Linked DNA regions of Homo sapiens: region 1 is reported to be linked to region 2. The links are microRNA targets in miRTarBase. Many come from high-throughput screens and were not tested one by one. Region 2 holds a microRNA gene; the other region holds the end of a gene's coding sequence.

Region 1 (3,259 bases), not on the chromosome of region 2:
ACACTGAGACAACAGGCATAAACTGGGACTCTACTGGACAAGTCAGAACTCATGATCATTCTAGGAGCCCCCAAACTCACCTTCATTCCATTCCTGCCCAAAGATGTAAAAATGATCCCACCTCCTTTTTCCCATTAGGTGCAAGATTTGGTTCCTAATGTGGTCAGGGTCCAAGCATCTCACCCTTTATTCTTCTGCTTCACAGGTCAGCCTTACTTTATACCATAAGGAGGAGCTTGAATAACCTCCAGGATTTGGCTCATAATCCAGGCCTCTCTCCACGTGTGCCTGATTGATGCTCCAAATTGGCTTCCACGGGCCAAACCTTGGCTGTTCCAGAAACTGAACCCCAGGAATTGCTTACACACTTTCTTCCAGCGTAGCATCTCTTCAAACACAATGCTCTTCCCCTTGACCACTTCTCAGTATGAAACTCTATGTCTTCAACTTTCAGACCCCCCATTTATTTGTATGAAGGCTTCAGTTGCCTTAATAAAGTGCTCTGTGGGGTCCGATCTCTCCGAGGCTGAATAATTCACATCTGCAATATGCTGATATTGACATACACTCACATCTCTCTATATGCAATTTTCAGAGAACAAAAAGCCATTGCATTTTCTGGTGACACCAAAAAAGGGAGAGAGTATGAAAATCCTGCAAATTGAGAATGCTAGTGACATTGTTACTTTGGTAAAGTTGTCGTTAAGATGCTGAAGAATGGAGCCAGTGCAGATCCAGATTTTGTATGGTCTAAACCTGATAAATGAGGAGCTCCTTTAGAAACCAAGCACAGGCTGGGCACGGTGGCTCACGCCTGTAATCCCAGCACTTTGGGAGGCCAAGGAGGGCGGATCACCTGAGGTCAGGAGTTCAAGACCAGCCTGACCAACGTGGAGAAACACCATCTCTACTAAAAATACAAAATTAGCCAGGCGTGGTGGTGCATGCCTGTAATCCCAACTACTCGGGAGGCTGAGGCAGGAGAATTGTTTGAACCCAGGAGGCAAAAGTTGCAGTGAGCTGAGATTGCACCATTGCACTCCAGCCTGGGCAATAAGAACAAAACTCAAAAAAAAAAAAAAAAAAAAAAGAAAGAAAGAAAGAAAAGAAAAAAGAAAGAAACCAAGCACAAATGAGTACAAAAGAGAATATTATTTCAAATGAGGAGGGAAATTGCAACCAGCTGCAAATTTTTAAAGGCTGACAAACAGTAAAAATTGCACAAAACCCATATAAATTAATAATTCATTGTTTACATTTATGACCTCAATTCTGTAAAGCACTATTTCTGTGGAGAGAATGGAAAGATAACTTTTTATTTAATGTGGGGATCAAAATATGATATTTTAATTTTTATTATAGGTGAATTGGATAAAACATGTACCTGAATGCTTGAAGCCATGCTTGATGTCTGCAGTTCTGTTACAGGTTTGTGTCCTAGAAACACAGGAATTTTAATAAATTATCTTTTGTACAACTCTATTAAAAAAAGAAAAAATGCATGGTACATTTAAAATTGTACATATTGAATTATCAAGTATATGCTTACTACAAAAGAACTTCTGAACAGGCTTCCATAAGAGCTGATTTTTTTTTTCTAATTAAAATGTGATGTATCTGACCAGACTCAGTGGTTCATGCCTGTAATCCCAGCACTTTGGGAGGCCGAAGGGGGCAGATCACCTGATGTCAAGAGTTCAAGACCAGACTGGCCAACGTGGTGAAACCCCATCTCTACTAAAAATACAAGAAATTAGCCAGGTGTGGTGGTGCACACTTGTAGCCCCAGCTACTCAGGAGGCTGAGGCAGGAGAATTGCTTGAACCCGGGAGGTGGAGGTTGCAGTGAGCCAAGATCGTGCCATTGCACTCTAGCCTGGGCGGTGGAGTGAGACTCCATCTCAAAAAAAAAATTGATGTATCTGATATTTGAAAGAATGCTACACAGGCTTGTTTTCCTGGCTCCACACATTTCAAAACTTGTTTCTCCTCTACCACCCGCAACCTTCTTGGGCTAAGAACATTCATTTTACAGTGCAACCTCTAGTCCCATAACTTAGTGTCATAACATCAAGGGAATAGGCCCAGTAGAAAACAGGAGTATTATTTGCAGCTGCTTCTCCACCAGGACAGCTAGCAGCAACTTCCTACACATACAAATGACAGCTAACGACCTAAATATATTCTACTAACTCCAAAATAAATATATCCCCAACTCAACTTCCTTTTAATTTGCATGCCTAAAATGCTGGCAGTCGCCCAAACACCACCTGACCTAGGAGAAGTGTGACAGAGGGAAAGGTCAGAGTGGAAAGGGAAGGTGGATTGGCGATTATGGTTAGAATATCTTACTTTTGCAGATATTACAAGTCATCTGACCATGTAAACATATAGCTAGAAGCACTCCCAGAATCTTAAAAGGGGCTCGCTCGAGCGAGGACCCTGAGGCTTGGCTCCATCGACCTCATGGTAAGTCCGTCTCTGAAAGGGCTCATGGACTTGTTTACTGGAGTTGTAGTAAAGAAGACAGTTCCATAGTATGGTGCAGAAACTCCAAAATTGAAAATAGCTGGACAGGCATGAAAGGGGGAGATGGAGGAAAGCAGAGAAGAGTTAAAGAGGAAGGGAGAAGAAAGGGGTGAAGGAGGAAAAGACACTGGATGGTGTGACTGTTTTAAAGCAAGGTCCTAAAATTCTTTCACTCACCTTCCACCTAGAAGTGGGATCTATGTCCCCTCCTTTTGAATCTGAGAAAACTCTGTGACTGCTTTGACCAAGAGAATAAAGCAAAAATGATGCTATGTGACCTCCAAGGCTAAGCTAGAATAAGTGCAAGTCCCACTTGATCCTCTTATGTAGCTTGTTTGGGGGCAGTGGGAAACTGCCATGTAAGATGTCCAACTACTCTGAGAGAGGCCCATGCTAGAGAGACCCATGTGGGTGCTGTGATCAGCAGGCCCAGATAAGCTCTGACTGATAGCCAGCATCAATTTCAGCCATGCAAATGAGATGCCCAACCCAATAGAGCCTTCAGATGGCTGCAGCCCCAGCAGACATCTGACTGCAACCATGGGAAAGACCCTATAAAAGAACCACCAAGCAGATTGCTTCCCAGATGGCTGACCCACAATATAAAATGGTTGCTTTAAAGTGCTAAGTTTTCAGAAAATTTATTCACAGAATAGGTGATCAAAGATGGAAACGGGCTAGGAGCAGTGGCTCACAGCTGTAATCCCAGGCACTTTGGGAGTCCAAGGCAG
Region 2 (3,524 bases):
GAGCTCCATGGCCATCCTAGGAGGCAAGAAGATTGTCCCACTTTACAGATGGGTAAGTTGAGGCCAGGAGAGGGGCAGTGACACACCCAGAACTTCATAGCCAGTAAGAGTGTGAGCCATGCAGCCATGGCAGAACCTATGCCTACCCGACCCCATCTGGACTTCCAGCTCTAGGCAATTTCTGCAGCGTCCCTTCCCCCTCACCACCTTCAGCCCCTGGCTCTTAGAGCTGCCTTCAGCCTTCGTTTGGACAAGTAGCTGAGCTCAATGTCTTCCCAGCTTTCCCCTCCCGGATCACTGCCCAACTCTGGGGGCCTCCTTCCTCTGCCCTGGGCCCTCCCACATACCCATTTCTTAGGGGCTCCAAGTCCACATCTCCCATCTCCCCATCCCCACACACTCACCCTGGGCAGCAGCCAGCTCCTGCAGGGCATGGGTCATCTGGGTGAAGGTGTCATGCAGGTGGCTTCTCTCATCATAGTCTGGCGGTGAGGGAGGGAGCAGGGGCTGGGGGAGGCAGCTCCCCGCAACACCATGTCCCTAATGCGAACATTCTGTTTCTGAGTCTCTGCCCTCCCAAGTCTGTATCCTCCCCTCTCTGACTCTTTGCCCCACAGTCGCTATGCTTCCTGAGTCCCTCCCAAGTCTCTATCCTCCCTGAGTCTCTGCCCCCGACCAGTCGCTATCCTGCTTCCCCTAGTCTCTGCCTCATCTCTGTCCTCCTCTCTCTGGGTTTCCATCCTCTTTGAGTCTCCATCTTCCACCCTCTGAGTCTCCATCCTCCCCTCTCTGGGTCTCTATTCCCTCTCCAGTCTCCAACCTCTCCTGACTCTCCATCCTCCCCTTTCTATGAGTCTCCATCCTCCTGACTCTCCATCCTCCCGAGTGTCCATCCTCCCCTCTCTGACTCTCCATACTCCTGAGTCTCCATCTTTCCGAGTCTCCATCTTCCTCTCTCTCTGAGTCTCCATCCTCCCCCTCTCTGAGTCTCCATCTTCCCCTCTCTGACTCTCCATCCTCCCCTCTCTGAGTCTTTGCCCTGCTGTCTTCCCCTGTCTGTGTCTCTCTGTCCCTAAGTCTCTGTTGTTCTCATGGTCTTTGAGCCTTTCTCCTCTGACTGTTTCTCTCTGTCTGTCCCTCAGCCTGACCCTCTGGGCCTCTCCTGCCCTCCCTCTGCACCTTCCCCAGGACACTGATGAAGTGTGGATGGTCTCCTCACTGATTTCGGTGTCAGAGAGGCCCTGGAAGGCGGCCGTGAAGGCCTCCTCACACTCTTCAAGCTTGGGGCTCCGCATCCCAACAAACATCTGGCAGATGCGGAGGCGCTCAGAGTAGGTTGTGAAGCAGAGGAGACAGGCCCAGGCGGGCACCCTGAAGACAGCCAGGGCCAGCAGGGCAGACGGGACGGCACTGGCCAGAGCCAGCAGGGCCATCGTGTGGGTCTCAAGGCCAGGGGAGAAGCTAGTAACCTTTATGAAGTCACCACAGGGCGGGGGAAGGGCCAGTGGTCTGGGGTCAGAGGTCAGGTTTCAGTTGGTGGTCAAATGTCATGCTCTGGAGGAAGGGTATGAGGAGTCAGGGGTCAGAAGTCAGGCCAGCAATTCCCCAGGTGTGTGGTTGGGCCAGACGCCAGGCTCCCAAGAACCTCACCTGTGACCCTGGATGTCCTCACAGGTTAAAGGGTCTCAGGGACCTAGAGACTGGCAACATGGTGTGCGGTGGCCCGGTAGACCCTGGGGTGGGGGTCAGAGATGGAGATAGGCACAGAGACATTCTGAGAGCCAGAGACAGAAAGACCAAAAACGACAGAAATAGAGACACAGAGAGATATCGGGAGGGGCAGAGACCTAGAAAGCCAGAATAAGAGGGAGTCAGAGGATCCACTGTGAAAGAGACACAGAAGCCACAGAGACACAGCAGAGATGGAGACAGACAGGGAAGGAAAACAGATTTCAGGGGAAGGAGGGGATGCAGGGACAAGGACAGAAAAGAGCCCGGCTCTTCCTCCCAGGGTCCCTGGGGCAGCCCAGTGGGGCTAAGGGTCCCTGAGTGGGGCTGGGGGTCCCCGCCGGGCCCCGTCCCGTGCAGGGCGCAGCCTGGGGAAAGCTAGGAGGCCGTATAGTGATCTCCTTGGGTGTCCTCCTCAACTATACAACCTCCTACCTCAGCCCGGGGGGCGCGGCAGGTGGACAGACCCGACAGACAGACAGACAGGGACCAGGAGGACCAGGGATGAGGGGGAGGGCCGGGGAGGCCCCAGCCGCGATGGTGAGCCCCCGACACGGACCCACAGACACGAGCTTGTGTGCGGCGAAGGCCCCGCAAGGTCGGTTCTACGGGTGGGTGCCAGGACCCAGGAGTCCGGGCCCCCGGCCCCTCCTCCCCAAGGAACCCAGGAGTCCAGGCCCTCAGCCCCTTCCTCATCAGGGACCCTGGAGTCAAGGCTCTCATCCCCCTCCTCCCTAAAGAACCCAGAAGTCTAGGCCCTTCCTCACCACAGACCCAGGAATCCAGGCCTCTGGCCCTTTTCTCCCCAAATGTTCCTGGAATCCAAGGACTCAGCCCCTTCCTCCCTCAGACTCATGAGTCCAGATCCAAAGCCTCCTTCTCCCCAGAGACCCAGGAGTCCCTGCCCCCAGCCCCTCCTCCCTCCGGCCAGGCAGGCCTCCTGGGGAAGGCATGGCCTGATAGAAAACCTGGCTTCCTGGGTGCCGGCTGGGAGGGAACCTCATTTGTCTCGTAATTTGGCCCTTTGGGCACACCTGCTTCCTACCTACCCTCCTGTCAGTCTGCAGAGACTCCAGGCCCAGGGCTAAGGAGGCCAGGGGCTAGCCAACCATCAGAGCCTCCCTAGGTGCTTTCTTTCCTCTCTCCTCCCTTCTTTGGGTCATTTACAACTATGACAGCCACAATCTCCCAGCGCTGACCCCATACCAGGCCCTGAGCACCAGTCCTCTCCCTGACACCTCCCACTCCAGAGAGCGAGGTGCCCTCAGCATCCCCATTTGGCAGGTGAGGGGGCTGAGCCTCAGAGAGGGGAAGAGGCTCCCAAAGTCTGCCCAGCCCCATCTCTGTCCTCCCTCTTGAATCCAGGAGGTGTCCCCAGCCTTCTCCAGCTTCTGGACCCCGGGACCCAGCACCCACCCTCCCCACCCCTGGGCTCTGAGCCCCTCCAGCTGGGGTCTCTCCCGTGCCCAGCCCCTCCTCCTGGACTGTCTGGTTCTCGCTGCCCCTGCTCCAGGCGCACCTTCCGGTTCCTTTCTCGCAGTCCAGGTCTCTCTGGCCCTGCCTTTTTCTCTCTCCCTCTTTCTTTCCACCTTCCCTGGTTCCCAGCCTCCTCCTGCATCAGGACATCCCTCCCTGGCTCTGCGCTGGCTTCTCTCTCTGCCCATCGCCTCTCTCCTCTCCCCGCTTCTGTTTTCTTCCTTCTCTCCCCCTCTTTCTCCTGCTTTTCCTCTACCTTCTGTCTTTCATCCTCCCCTTCTCCCCCTTCCCCCTCTTTGTCTCTCTCATTCTCTCTCTGG

Evidence for each region. Region 2 holds the annotated microRNA hsa-miR-125a-3p (ACAGGUGAGGUUCUUGGGAGCC, at 1,633-1,654, opposite strand). A microRNA usually pairs through its seed, bases 2 to 8, with sites in the 3' UTR of a target mRNA and lowers its output. Matches are read on the target gene's strand: a 7mer-m8 pairs with bases 2 to 8, a 7mer-A1 pairs with bases 2 to 7 and ends in A, and an 8mer does both.
Region 1: the mRNA of WFDC6 is a reported target of hsa-miR-125a-3p. The part of its 3' UTR that is shown has no 7-base or 8-base seed match.

The regions. Positions count from the first base shown.
Region 1 is chr20:45,531,452-45,534,710 of GRCh38, reverse strand. It overlaps WFDC6 (WAP four-disulfide core domain 6), which reads left to right. Exons shown (of 3, transcript NM_080827.2): 3 at 206-515. The coding sequence ends at 244. It overlaps LOC107987282 (a long non-coding RNA gene), which reads right to left. Exons shown (of 4, transcript XR_001754641.3): 2 at 1,385-1,437. Among named protein-coding and RNA genes, the nearest start is that of WFDC6, 6.4 kb to the left of the region's middle.
Region 2 is chr19:51,691,436-51,694,959 of GRCh38, reverse strand. It overlaps MIR125A (microRNA 125a), which reads right to left and starts at 1,706; the gene lies at 1,621-1,706. It overlaps SPACA6 (sperm acrosome associated 6), which reads right to left and starts at 1,630. Exons shown (of 9, transcript NM_001316972.2): 1 at 1,220-1,630; 2 at 405-482. The coding sequence starts at 1,433. SPACA6-AS1 (SPACA6 antisense RNA 1) reads left to right here and starts at 1,504. Exons shown (of 2, transcript NR_108100.1): 1 at 1,504-2,326. MIR99B (microRNA 99b) reads right to left here and starts at 2,348; the gene lies at 2,279-2,348. It also overlaps MIRLET7E. RefSeq lists an enhancer at 3,355-3,524.